4 linked regions of the Homo sapiens genome follow. The protein of the gene in region 4 purifies or fractionates together with the protein of the main gene of each other region. This does not show direct contact. Each region holds a gene or a part of one and is shown on either strand. Other genes may lie near its edges.

What was found.
Region 1: the proteins of GALNT1 (region 4) and GDPD5 purify together in Homo sapiens (co-immunoprecipitation; one large-scale study listed by IntAct). This does not show direct contact.
Region 2: the proteins of GALNT1 (region 4) and TOR1AIP2 purify together in Homo sapiens (co-immunoprecipitation; one large-scale study listed by IntAct). This does not show direct contact.
Region 3: the proteins of GALNT1 (region 4) and SEC23A purify together in Homo sapiens (pull-down; one study listed by IntAct). This does not show direct contact.

The regions. Positions count from the first base shown.
Region 1 is NC_000011.10:75,515,942-75,519,441, reverse strand, and holds part of GDPD5 (glycerophosphodiester phosphodiesterase domain-containing protein 5), read left to right. Parts: exon of another isoform or gene 1-427; intron 428-1,168; exon of another isoform or gene 1,169-1,226; intron 1,227-2,015; exon of another isoform or gene 2,016-3,500. UniProt on the Homo sapiens protein: Glycerophosphodiester phosphodiesterase that promotes neurite formation and drives spinal motor neuron differentiation.
Region 2 is NC_000001.11:179,846,804-179,850,303, forward strand, and holds part of TOR1AIP2 (torsin-1A-interacting protein 2), read right to left. Parts: intron 2,072-3,500; exon of another isoform or gene 1,422-2,071; intron 834-1,421; coding exon 732-833; intron 26-731; coding exon 1-25. UniProt on the Homo sapiens protein: Required for endoplasmic reticulum integrity. Regulates the distribution of TOR1A between the endoplasmic reticulum and the nuclear envelope as well as induces TOR1A, TOR1B and TOR3A ATPase activity.
Region 3 is NC_000014.9:39,096,736-39,100,235, forward strand, and holds part of SEC23A (protein transport protein Sec23A), read right to left. Parts: intron 1-3,500.
Region 4 is NC_000018.10:35,689,740-35,693,239, reverse strand, and holds part of GALNT1 (polypeptide N-acetylgalactosaminyltransferase 1), read right to left. Parts: intron 3,165-3,500; exon of another isoform or gene 2,229-3,164; coding exon 2,048-2,228; exon of another isoform or gene 1,994-2,047; intron 1,060-1,993; coding exon 920-1,059; intron 1-919. UniProt on the Homo sapiens protein: Catalyzes the initial reaction in O-linked oligosaccharide biosynthesis, the transfer of an N-acetyl-D-galactosamine residue to a serine or threonine residue on the protein receptor.

The sequences.
Region 1 (3,500 bases), on a different chromosome or scaffold from region 4:
CTGCTCCGTGGAATGAATGAATGAACAGCCTGGTAGGGTTGGGAGGACACAGAAGCAGTGACAACACAGAATGTGACAGGGAAGGCCAGGGGCCTGGGGTTGCCCGGCGCTGGGTGGGGAGGGGAGTCAGGGAAGCCTTCCTGGAGGTGGTGCCCATGTTGCTGACTTTGGACCTCTGTGAGATCAGCACTGAATGAGCTGAGAGAGGAGTAGCTCCTCTCCAAAGGTAGCTGGCAAGGAGGAGAGCTTGGGCAGACCCCAGGACCAGTGGACTCCACAGGCCTCTCACTTCCCACCAACCCACACCATCTCTCCATCTGTGACATTCTGCTTTCAGGGCATGAGGAAGGCGGAAAGGCAGGTGGGGAGGAAGTGTGGGCTGCTGGTCTGACAGGCTCAGCTCTTCCCAGGCTTGTGACCAAATCTCCTGCAGAAAAGGATAAACAGGCCTGCTTTGAGTTCTTTTATCTTCTTGCTCCCAAGGCACACCAGCAAGCAGAGGGGGTCTTCCAGCGTTAATCCTGCAGCTGTTTAGCTTTTGAACGAGTGGACTCTTTAAAAAAAATGCCACGAAGAATGTCTCACTCTCTCACCCAGGAGGCTCAAAGAGAAACTTCTCTCCCACTGACAAGGGAGCTGGAACCCCCAAGTGTCTTAAAGAAGCTCACCCCAGGGGCAGTCTGAAATCAGGGGACCCCTCATGCTGCCTCGATTTGTTGCTGGCTGTGGGGCCTTGAGGACACCCTTATATTTTGCTTGGCTTCTGCCCATTTTGTAAAATGGGGTCAGGGTAATAAATCCCTTCTTTCCTTAGAAAGGCGTGTGGCAGGAGAGTTTCAGAGGTGGGAAGGGCAGCAGTGGGCATCCAAGCCCATGGCTTTCAAACTTTGTTTCACATTAGAATCATCTGGGAAACTTTTAAAAGTCCTGCAGGCCCCACAATCTCTGGGGCATGACCCAGGCATCAGTAGTTGATGAAGCTCCCCTGGTGATTTCAGTTTGAGAGCCACCTGGCTGCCCTCTGCAGCCTACCTCCCACAGTGTCCCAAGACAATACTTGCACATCCCCAGGACAAGGAGCTCATTCCTTCCGAGGCTGCTTCCTCCCCCCAGGACCTTCCTGCCTGGAGAGATGAGGGGAGTGGGAAGACTTGGTAATCCAGTTAACCTGGGTTCCAGCATGCAGCTGCTCCCTGCGTGTCTTCTCGGAGCCTCAGTTTCCTCATCTGAAAAATGACAATAACGATCTCTCTGAAAGGGCCACAGAGGCCAGACGAGGCCACACATGGCAAGCACCCACCCCATACCTGACGCCGGGCTGGACTGAGACCCTGAACTCCCTGCCCCAGCCACCTGAGGCCAGGTCTCTGAGACTGGCGCTGGTTAGGGTGGGATCAACACCCAGCCCGGGGGCCCTTCCCACTGTCCCCTTTCTCTCTAAGAGATAAGACAAGGCAGTAAGCATTTTGTTTTGCTCAGTTTTGCTTTAATGGTCAAAGTGTCAGACTCTCCTTAACAATGAAGCCTTGTCTGAATCTGCTTGTTTTTCCAACCCGGACACCCAACTGCACCACCTGCTTGGGGCCCCTGTCCCACCTGGGAGAACTGAAGAATGTCAGAGGATTTTTTTTTTTAATCTAGGGGAGGGTGTCCAGGGAACATTGGAGGCCTCTGTGCAAATCCTCACCGATAATTGACCCCACTTAAGTCATCCAACTCTGCTGTGATTGTGAGCCAGTTCACTAAAATTATTTCAAGGTAGTTACTAGGTGTTGAGCTAAACCCCTATCAGTGCCAGTGAGGATGGCACCAGGCTCAAGAGGCCAAAGAGGAGACCCAGAGCCAGCGAATGAGCCATGGGGTTTTACTACGGGCTCACACACAGGGGAGAGAGTCCAGTGGCTGCTGGCTGGACCGAAGAACCACAACCACTCGCAGGAAGTGTGCAGTTTTTTTGTTTTTGGTTTTGGTTTTGGTTTTTTTTTTTGAGACAGAGTTTCGTTCTTATTGCCCAGGCTGGAGTGCAATGGCGCGATCTTCACTCACTGCAGCCTCCGCCTCCCAGGTTCAAGCGATTCTCCTGCCTCAGCCTCCCAAGTAGCTGGGATTACAGGCAAGTGCCACCACACGCAGCTAATTTTGTATTTTTAGTAGAGATGGAGTTTCGCTATGTTGGTTAGGCTGGTCTCAAACTCCTGACTTCAGGTGATCCGCCTGCCTCAGCCTCCCAAAGTGCTGGGATTATAGCTGTGAGCTACCGCCCCCCAGCCTAAAAGCTTGCAATTTCTATAGCATTTTCACTTAGCACCTCCCCCAACAACTTCCACCTAGCAACCTCCATTTACCCCAAACCACAGACCTCAATCCTCTGTTTGGCCCGCAAGTTCCATAGGATGGGCCAAGAGCTCAGATGTTCCTCATAGATAAGGAGTGGATCTCCGGGTTGGCTACTCCCAGATTCCTTAGCTTAGAACCAAACTGCATTGAGGTGCGCCTGCCATACAAGGTCATTCTCAGGGCTTGCTCAAGTCCAGGTATCACTGTCCAACGTGTCTACCATACAGAAGACAGAAAACTTATGTTGATCCTGGCTTTGTCACTTACTGGCAGGATGACCCTGGAAGAATCATTTTATCTCTTTGAGCACGAGTTGTTTCTCCTATAAAATGCATTTGTAGGAAGGACTTCCTGGGATTACCTGAGAAGCAAATAAAATTACTGGTATGTGGAGCACAGTGCCTACCGTAAACTAAGCACTCAAGAGCTGTTGGTGCATGCACTTGCTGGGGAGCTGACCCCTGCCTCCTGCCCCTTCCTTCACTGGCTGGTCCACGCTCCCTGTCTCCCAGTCTGCTCCCCTTGCCCCACCAGGCCCAGGCTGAGACAGAGGACAGAGGAGGCCTGCACATGTAATCATGGGCATCCCTTCAAACTGCTCTTCTTTAAGACCAGAGGAGGCTCTGAGGACTGGACAGAGGAAGACTACAAAAGGGGCCATCAGTGGCAGTGCTTGGTCTCCTTGCCTGGGCACAGCCAGAGAGGGTACATCAACCCAGAGTGACTGGCTCAGGCATTAGGCGTGTGACAAATCAACACGGGATAGTGCAGCACCGAGGGACTAGCAGTGGCTGGGAGCAGTTACCACTCAGGGCTGAAGGAGCAAGGGAAGTGGGCAGCTATAGGGATAGGGGCTGTGGGCCATCAGTACAGGGACCCAGTCAACCCAGGAGACCTCACAGGGGATAAACTTCAACTATCTTTCCTCTTTCCTTCAGTCCCCCATTTATGCTTCCTGTTGGGTGTACCTCTCTGAAAGCCAGCAGCATGGAGCCCATTACATTCCACAGAGGTCAGTTCCCAGGGCCCCAAACAAGGTAGAGAGTGGCTCTGGAGAAGCAAACCAAAGACACTTCCTCACTCTGTCCATCAAAAGCCCGGGAGTCCACTGAATACACTGTCCTTAGGACACAGTTTAAAGATCATCTGTTTTTACCATACCC
Region 2 (3,500 bases), on a different chromosome or scaffold from region 4:
ACCAGGACGACAAGAATCACAGGGCCTGTCAAAAGAATGAAAAAGGAATAGAAAATTACAGAGAACACGAGCCAGAAACAAAGCCTGTGGTAAACTGAAATGAGGCAGAGATACCAGCAGGTTTTACTAGGAGCAATAAGTTTCTTTTGCATAAATTGTTTAAACTTTCAATCCACCAGAAGTACCTTTTCTCTAATCTCTTCTCAGATTTAATTATTTGAAGATATATCTGTTAAAAGATAAAAGCTACGTGGAAGAGTTAAGTACTCGGTAAAAAATTTTTAAAAATAAAAGGTAAAAGCTGAGTCTATGTATTTGTTATTATAACTAATGATGTAATTTAGACATGAGTGATCAAGATTTTTTTTCATCTTCTCAATGCACCTACTACCTATAGCCGACCATTTTTTTAGGAGTCATAACTTTAAAGTGCACTTGAAAAATTAATATTCTCTAATTAGAAAGGCAGTTTTTGTTTCTTGTTTAGGAAAAGCCTTTCCTATTGTGAGAAATTCCATTTTGTTAAGCACAGCAAAATATCAGCCAGCACCCGTAAGGGAAAAATCCCTAAAACTCTAGTGTACTATTTTACTATGTCTCACTACCAATCATTAAATAAGTATATATAAACACAATGTTAAAACTGTTTAAATCTGCTAGTTTTCTAGGCATTTTCACTGAGGATTTCTGAAAGTGAATCAACACTGCAGTAAAACCAGGTTTGTTCTCACCATAGCTCCAAAAACCCTTTTTATTAATCTGTCTCATGGTGTCCTGTGCATTCTCTTTAATTTCTTCCAATTTTTGTGTTTGTTGTGGATGACTTCCAGCCTCTGGAGAGGAAAAGAATCAATATTATTTTTAGGCAGTACACTAATGACAGTATGTATACCTTTATATCTCTCACCAAACCAAAGAATGATTTGACTAAAAGGCTTTCTATACCTTGGCCAGGTACGGTGGCTCATGCCTGTAATCCCAGCACTTTGGGAGGCTGAAACAGGTGGCTCACTTGGGGTCAGGAGTTTGAGACCAGCATGGCCAACAAGGTGAAACCCTGTCTCTACTAAAAATACAAAAATTATCGGGCATGATGGCGGGCGCCTGTAATCCCAGCTACGTGGGAGGCTGAGGCAGGAGAATCGCTTGAACCTGGGAGGTGGAGGTTGCAGTGAGCCGACATCGTGCCACTGCACTCCAGCCTGGGGGACAGAGCAAGACTCCATCTCAGAAAAAAAAAAAAAAAAAACCAAAGTTAACATTTTTCCTGTCTTTTCTTTAAGACTATTACTTTTATTCTACTTAGAAGGATAAAATGAAATACTGTGAAATTCATTCAAGGATAATGTTGCTATATTCACAATTCCTTACTGCCTCTTATATCAAAGACAAAGACATTTAAATAGTGCGGCCAAACTTACCTAAAATGTAATTCAGCAAAATGTATAAAATCAAGAAGGGATTTAAGAAATGTTGGCTGTACACAAGATTCAACTTCACAGGGTAATTGTGCTCTAATTCCAGTGTTCGAGTTTCACATGGTTCCTCAAGACCCCGAATATAAAAATAACAGAGGCACTAAGTTCTAAGATAGGAGAGATTAGTGTACAGTTGCAAAATAGCTTACAGAAGCAAATTTGAAACTCTTAGTGAAGGAGATATACAAAGCAAGGAATATAAGGTGAAGAAAATTCACGAAATATGTAAAAATCCAGATGTAGGGAGGGCATGCCAAGCTTAAAATATGTGGGTGAAAAGAAGGGCAACAATTTTTAGCACTCTAAGCTAAATCACACTAGAATCTAAATTTGTGCTTAACCCCAGCCAGGTACTTCTATTAGCATAGATGAGTAGGATCATCTTCACTTATAAAGGATTGTTCCTATCACCCCAAAGAGTAGGTTCTTAAAATATCATATCATAGAATCTAAGAACTGAAAGGATCTATAATGGACACCTACTCCGGCCCCATTACTTAACCTATCATGAAAAAAGGTCCAGGGATATTAAAGATCTTGCCCAAGGTCACATAAAGAGATGTAGCTGGCTGGGCGCAGTGGCTCACGCCTGTAATCCCAGCACTTTGGGAGGCCGAGGCGGGCGGATCACAAGGTCAGGAGATCGAGACCATCCTGGCTAATACGGTGAAATCCCGTCTCTACTAAAAATACAAAAAAAAAAAATTAGTTGGGCACGGTGGCGGGTGCCTGTAGTCCCAGCTACTCGGGAGGCTGAGGCAGGAGAATGGCGTGAATCCGGGAGGCGGAGCTTGCAGTGAGCCGAGACAGCGCCACTGCAGTCCGGCCTGGGCAAAAGAGTGAGACTCCATCTCAAAAAAACAAAAAAAAAGAGATATAGCTAAGTTGAGATGAAAACAAAGTTTCTCATCTCTTAGAGTATAGATAACCTCATTCAACTATATTAAATTGCTTTCCATACATAAACTGCATTTTTTTTTTTAAAGACAGGGTCTCACTCTGTCAACAAGGCTGGAGTGTAGTGCTGAAATTTCGGCTCACCACAGCTTCAACCTCCTGGGCTCAAGCAATCCTCCCACCTCAGCCTCCTGAGGACTATAGGTGCATGCAGCTGTTTTTGTGTTTTCTGTAGAGATGGGTTTTTGCCATGTTGCCCAGGCTGGTCTTCCTGGCCTCAAGTGATCCACCAGCCTTGGCCTCCCAAAGTGCTAGGATCACAGGAGTGAGCCACCACCCTTGGCCTAAACTAGATTTTTTTAAACAATATTTTTTCTACTCACAGTGAACCTGCCTAACAGTGAATTTTTTTTTAAGAGATGGGATCTCACTAGATTGCCCAGGCTAGCTAGAATGCAGTGGCTATTCACAGGGGTGATCATAGCACACTGCAGGCTTGAACTCCTGGGCTCAAGCAATCCTCCCAACTCAGCTTCCCAAGTAACTGGGACTAGAGGTGTAAGTAATTGCACCTAGTTTATAACAGTGAAATTCTGACGCAGGTCATGGTCCTTACAGATCACATTCATTCATTTGACAAAATTCATAAAGGTGTTTCTATGTGCCAGGTGCCAGAGATACACAATGAATGAGAGGACACAGTCCTTGCCTTCACTGAAGTTACAGATTATTCTAATGATTAATAAATAAAACATATATTTGAGATTAGTCATTGATTTGCAGTGAAACATGAATTACTAGCCCTTGCTGAAGTCCCTGATGAACAGAACATCTTATATTTTATATTCTTTTGCACTGGCAAATGGGCATTTCAGACTGAGCTCTTCAGAGTGCTTATAAAATACAAACCCACACAGACAATCACAGAAGGTGAAAGTTAGAAGAATGTTTGGATATCATCTTGTCCAACTTCTTCATTTTACAAACAGGAAATTGAAGCACCAGGAAGGGAAGATTTTCCCAAGGTCTCCCAAGTCAGCAAGTGGTAGGGCCACAACTAGAATTCACACCTCCAGTTCCAGTTAAGGATTTAGCACACTGCAACGCTTAGCTTCATAAGGGAAG
Region 3 (3,500 bases), on a different chromosome or scaffold from region 4:
TAGGGGGAAAACCTAGATCCTATGTTTTCCATATCAGTTTTGAAAATTATAAGAATTCATATAAACAGATTTCAAAATTATAAAGTTCTAAAACTCACATGGTTTCTATCTGAAAAATAACAAGTTTCCACTAAACTTTACAGAAGAGAATGTTTAATGGTATGTAACAAAAAGATTTTCCTAAAACTGGACACTTCTGCTTTGGACAGGTAATTTTCTTATTGTGCAAGTACAGGCTATTTGTGGCACAATAAATAAAATGCTTGATAAGTGCTGTTCCCCCAATTTATATATCATTTAGACTCTTTTGCAGAAACTTACTTCAGAATATTTTGAACATTCCAAATTATGAGAGCATTTTAAACTCCAATTTGAGATATAAAATTTCAGTATAATAATTTAAGTTTACTAACCAAGGGAAGAGGATGCACTCTGGGGAGGGACCAGTATCAAAAGACAGCTCCATTTTTACTGTCTAAATGCCTAGGTAGGATGCCGGCTTTCCTACGTAGGCAACAGCTCTATCTCATGCTCTCAAACTGCAACAGTAGTTAGTCATGGAAGGAAGCTGAAGAATTTAAAGGTGTGGGAGGACAAAGACATTCAAGTGTTATGCAGCAGACAGGAAGGACGTCAAGTTGAAAGAAGTGAACTGTGAACCTAGGGTGCCTGGAAAACCCAACATGGATGTTTAAAGTTGCTAAGAGCAATAGTGGGACAAGAAGCTGATTCTAAAATTTAAGTGAAGAAAGAAGAGATATTATTTGGGGGGAAAAAGTTAGATATAACAATTTTAATTTTAGAAAATCTTTCAAATAAATTTTCATAAAACAAATGGCAGAAAGTGAAGCTTAACAAATCTAAGCATTCCAAGCAGTTAAGAACTTTCTCTTCTTTAAATAAGAAAATAAAAATTAAAGAAAACACTGTATTTCCTCCAATTGTGCCAGAATCTTGGAGACAGCTAGAAAATCTTACGCTAATCAAAAAAGATTGTGGTTTTTCAAAGGTGCATAAAGGGTAAAGAGAAATCCCAAGACTAAACTTGTTTAGAAAAGACTATTTTGGGCCGGGTGCAGTGGCTCAAGCCTGTAATCCCAGCACTTTGGGAGGCTGAGGCAGGTGGATCACCTGAGATCAGGAGTTCAAGACCAGCCTGGTCAACATGGCAAAACCCCGTCTCTACTAAAAACACACAAAAAAATTAGCTGGGCAGGGTGGCATGCACCTGTAATCCCAGCTACTCAGGAGGCTGAGGCAGGAGAATCGCTTGAACTGGGGGGGCAGAGGTTGTGGTGAGCTGAGATTGCACCACTGCACTCCAGCCTGGGCGACAGAACAAGACTCCATCTCAAAAAAAAAAACAAAACTATTTTGAAGGTAAATATAGAAGGCAGCTTTGAGAAGGGTGGTATGAGCTTTCAAGGAAAAGTGTTGAAAGATAATGATAAAACAAAGGTGTGGGATATTCAGAGGAGAGTTAGAAGATGTCAAACTCCACCGTAACATAGGTGGCAATAAAGAAAAAACAACCAGGACGTGGGGGTGAGGGGGAGATTAGAAATCCAGTTTTTAGCAACAGCTTCCATGTTACTGATGTGAATATAAATTCTAAGACTATGCAAACCTCTTCCACATTTATTATACAGAACATAAGGCAAATAAAATTGTGTTTACTACTTAATTGCTCCTATAATTTAAGAAGCATGTACACGCCTACTATGTACCCACAAAAATTAAAAATAAAAAAAATTTTAAGGCCAGGCACAGTGGCTCACGCCTGTAATCCTAGCACTTTGGGAGGCTGAGGCCAGCGGATCGCTTGAGGTAGGAGTTCAAGACCAGCCTGGCCAACATGGTGAAACCCCATCTCTACCAAAAATACAAAAATTAGCTGAGCTGGTGGTGAGTGCCTGTAATCCCAGCTACTCAGGAGGCTAAGGCAGGAGAATCACTTGAACCCGGGAGGTGGAGGTTGCAGTGAGCCGAGATCATGCCACTGCACTCTAGCCTGGGCGACAGAGTGAGACTCCTTCTCAAAAAAAAAAAAAATTTAATAAAATAAAATGAAATCAGAACAGGGATGACTACATTTGACAAAAAATAAGTCATAAGAAATCCAGTGTTATTAAGAAAAAATAAAAATTCTAATGTGCCATAACAAAAAAAAAAAATAAAATGCATCTAAAACACATCTGCAAAAGGCATTAAAATAGCTGAAACACAAAACAAAAAATGTTTTCAATGACTGTTTTCTCAATTCTCCCAAGGATAGTACATAACTAGTACTTAGGTATTACACAGATATTTTCTCAAAAATGTATGAAGTAAACCTATCACTTCATAGAAAACAACTTATAGTATTTTTTGCCAATGATAAAAATTTGAGCTTTCAAGCAAACATTAAATTGTTTTTGGGTTTTTTTTTTTTTTTTTTTTTTTGACACGGAGTCTCACTCTGTCACCAGGCTGGAGTGCAGTGGGGCAATCTCAGCTCACTGCAACCTCTGCCTCCCGGGTTCAAGCGATTCCCCTGCCTCAGCCTCCCAAGTAGCTGGGACTACATGCGCGTGCCACCATACCCAGCTAATTTTTTGTATTTTTAGTAGAGACAGGGTTTCACCATGTTGGCCAGGATGATCTCAATTGTCTGACCTCGTGATCCGCCGGCCTCGGCCTCCCAAAGTGCTGGGATTACATGCTTGAGGCACCGCTCCCCGCCATTAAATTGTTTTAAAACTTGTGCCTGCTACCATAAGCTTGACAAGTTCCTAATATGTAAAGATTTTTCTGATGAGATCAGTGTTGGTATTAATGTAATTTGTTTGATAGTATATAACAAAATGTATTAACATTTAGAAGATATACATTACTCAGTGAAGCAATATCTTCCAAACCGTCAATTTGTGATATGAAAATATCACACATGGGTAGATGATCCATTCAAAGTGTAGAATAGGCCAATGAGTTTTAAGGTAACAAAGTACAAAAAGGTCACTCCTAAGCTTTCAGATTCCACACTGCAATTAACCTTTTAATTTATTAATTAATCCTTCATACAATTCAACCAAAACAATATATCACAATAAACTGCAGAAACAGATATGAAAACCCACCTGTCTTCTATTTAGCCTTTTTTTTTTCTCTTTGGATACTCAATAATGTTTAAGTTAGGGGTTCTGAAAACCACTGCCTTAGGACCATTAGGAAACCTCACTAAGAAAGGTTCCAGGAGTCTTAGCAGGAAGACATTCACACACAGACAATAGCCAGGTTTAACTTTCTACAACTGGTTAAAAGGCTGGATTGTATCTCTACATTCTTACTTCTTATTAAGACATACTAAATATCACCTGAGTGATATCTGGGCACAACTCTCTTCTCTTCTTCACATTTTTTCCTCTCAATCTCCCTGCTCTAAGATCAATTTGCTTGCTAAATCACATCTATTATACTTCTTACATTCCCACATTCCAGCAGTAGTTTGAAGAAAATCCCAC
Region 4 (3,500 bases):
CCCTAAAAACTCGTATGACCTGCTCATTCACTTTCTTCAGATCTCTGCTCAAAATCACCTTGACAGGACTCTTTCAACTTCCGTACTCTTTCAACTTCCTTACATAAAACAGTACTACTACCCACGCTCACTTGTCAGTCATTCTCTATCCCTTCTGCCCTTACCACCACCTGACATATTGTGTGCCTTTCATAATCTGTCTTACTCATGGACTGTAAGATCAACAAGAGCAGGATCTCTGCTTTACTTATTGCTGTATTCCTAGTACTTAAAACAGTACTTGTCATATACTAGAGGTACTCAAATATTTGTTGAATGAATGAAAGGACTGAAGAAGTGACAACCTTCTTCAGAGTGGGAGGCCACTTTTCCTGAGATTTAATCCTGGGGTAGGCCTGCTTGTGGCCCTGTCTACACATATCATCATTTGCTGCTGTGACTTATAAAAGGAAATATTGTCCTTCTATTGATTTCTATCACAAAAAGGTTGGATTTCTTTCCCTACTTGGCTTCATATTTTTTTCTAAAAGCCATCTTATAATTACAAGTTCACAAAGACCTGCAAAGAAGTCTTTTTTTTTTTAATATATATACAGATTTTACAGATCCACAATTGCAGATGGTGCAGTCTGTTTAGGAAACACATCACTATAGACAGAATAGGGAAAAACAGACCCCACAGTACACAGCTTATCTCCAGGCGCATCAACTCAGTGGAAATCAACTTTCAGGGAGGAGGAATGGGAAAAAAAGAATATAGTTTAGACTTACGTGGTAAGAAGGAGGAAGGAAGCAAGAGAAGTTAAATGTTAACATGAAGGTACTTTCCTTATTGGAAGTTTAACTAACTCCTATTTTTTTTTAATAAAAAAGTAAGAACATAATAACCACATAGAATATATATATATATATTTCTTACCTCTCCCAATGAGAAATAGTGACGTGGAATTTGAGAATCAGGATATATATTCTCTAGGTACCAGGAAAAAGGTTTGCATTGTAGTTTGTGTCTTAGACCAACTCTTGACGATATATCTCCATAATCTACCTTTGTAACACCTGTTGAAAGAAATAATTGACTCTGAATTATTAGTGTTGTTTTAGGTAACACATGTTTATATATTGAATCTAATAAGCCAGATGAATCAGAACAGTGGTATCAGCTGGGTGATATGTGACTATACAAGTGGAGACACCATGAATCCACCAAAAGTATAAAGCAAGGAAAATACATTAAAATGTGTTTTAATTTTTCAGAGAAAAATGACATTTATGTGAGAATGAAATATAAGTGATATGGGATCAGTAAACTTCAATATATGTTAAGGCACAAACAAAAAAATCAAGGTCTATTTTGCTCAAATATTAAACAGAGCAATTGTTTGCAGTCAGGCTTCTCTCACACAACTCACTGAACTGTGCACCCTGCCACTTGACAGTCTTGCAGTAACTAAAAAATAAGGATGGACTAGTAACAATGTCAGGCCGACTTATAGCTGATGGAACAACTGTTCCTACAAAACTCTGAATAGCAAAGTTTCCGGAAAGAAGGCCCTGTGGCACGTTTTGGGCTCTCAGTGGCCTTGTGATACTTGACGAAAGCCTCCTATGACAGCATTGAGGGCCTGCTTATAGAGAACGTTCATGACCCACTGCAAAAACAGTGGTTTTGTTATGTTGAATGAAAACTCCAAGAATCAAGAAAAAGTCATATAAGCTAGAAAAATGGCTGAAAATTTAACAAGATGAAACTTCACAGGAATAAATACTAAATGTTGCAGTTAGGTTTTAAAAAAAATAGAACATCTGCAAAACCTGGGCTAGCAACACTGACCTGGATAATTTATTACTGTTAATTATATATTATTCTAGGCATTCTGCCAAGCACTTTCTATACTGTGTGTGATTTCATTCATTCCTTACAATGACCTTATGAGGCAGGTGTTCACCTCTGCTCAAAGCTTCACTTCTAACCTTCTTACTTCTCCTCCAGGATCAGGGTCAACAAAGGTACAGCCTTGTATTTCTAATGCAAAACAACGCTAACCTGGAGAAATTATATAGAAGAAATTCTTGAATTCATCCATCCACACTTCTGCAAGTCGTCTGTTATTTTTATTGATAATCTGCCCTGTGCCTCCTGGAAACGTGTAAGGTGTAGCTTTCCGAAACACATGTCCAACATGTGAGCATGTAACAATTTCCAAAGTTCCTCCACACTGCCAAATCTGAAAACAGCAGAGATGACCATGTAACATGTAGCTGAGTAATCAGGAAATGTTCACCTTAGTTTTCCCATAGTATTTTTCTTTTCAATTAAATAGGGGTTTGGCTTTTGTTTAAACTTAAATGGAACATATTGTAGTTACTGGTAAAAAGCTTCCAAAGTACCTCCATACTACCAAATCTGAAAATAACAGCAAAGACCATATATGACATTGATAGTTTTTAAAAAAGTATTGACATCTATTGGGTTCCACAGTTGGAATTTCGCAAAATCAGGGGCACATGATGGGCTCCGGCTGTATGGTTAGGTTACAAAGCCAGTGCTTCCTCAAGAGAAACATTTCTCTAATTTGGGTTCTGATCAAACCAAAAGTTGAAGATTAAAATAAAGAAAACATAGGTTAAAGGCTAAATACAGAAAAGATATGGGATCTAGAGCAGTATTTTTCTAACTGCAGGCCATTATACCTAAGAGAATCATAAATTCAAATTGATGAATTGCAACCTGTACTTGTTAACAAGGACATACTGTTTCATAAAATGTTTAAATTTTATGTTTTGTGTGTGCAGAATGTATAATGTATTTATTAATGTGGCTCATGGTTAAAAACAACCACCAAACAAAACCTGACCATGGAGTAACCAGCCAGATGCTCATCTGTTCACCCCTCTCCAAACCTGCGTCACGGCTTGTACATGAAACAGAACCTAGGAATCTCAACTAGATCCATTGTAAGTTCTTCAGTGAGACAGTAAAAGCATGTTTTGTTGTCTTTGTTAGAACAATAAAAACAAAAAAAGGGGCAGAAGAAAGATGATCAAGTATGGGCTTACATCCTTAATTTAATGAAATCCTTCTGTTTCTTTCAAAATACATTCCCCCCACCAAGTTAAAAATCTCATAACTCTTTATAATTAAAATAACATTTTGGAAAGTTCTGATTTTGTTAAATATTCAGTGTTCCTACCTTCAAGTTTTCCCAGGATTATAAGTGTTAGAGCTGGATAGGATCTCCAAGGTGATATTGAGTCCAACCCTCTCTTTGACAAGAAGGCAAAGCGATTCACTGGGAACAAAGTGAGCTCGCTGGTTCAGATTACAGTACACGTCAGTGTGATTTCCACTATAATAAGCTATGTGTCTAAAGTTGGTTATTTGCAAAAATATGCAATGCCATTTAAACGATATGTTGATTCTAGTGAACATGAAATGCAAAGACTTTATATGTAGACTGGGTTAAATTAATTTAGAGTCATTTTAGAATTCTTTCGCA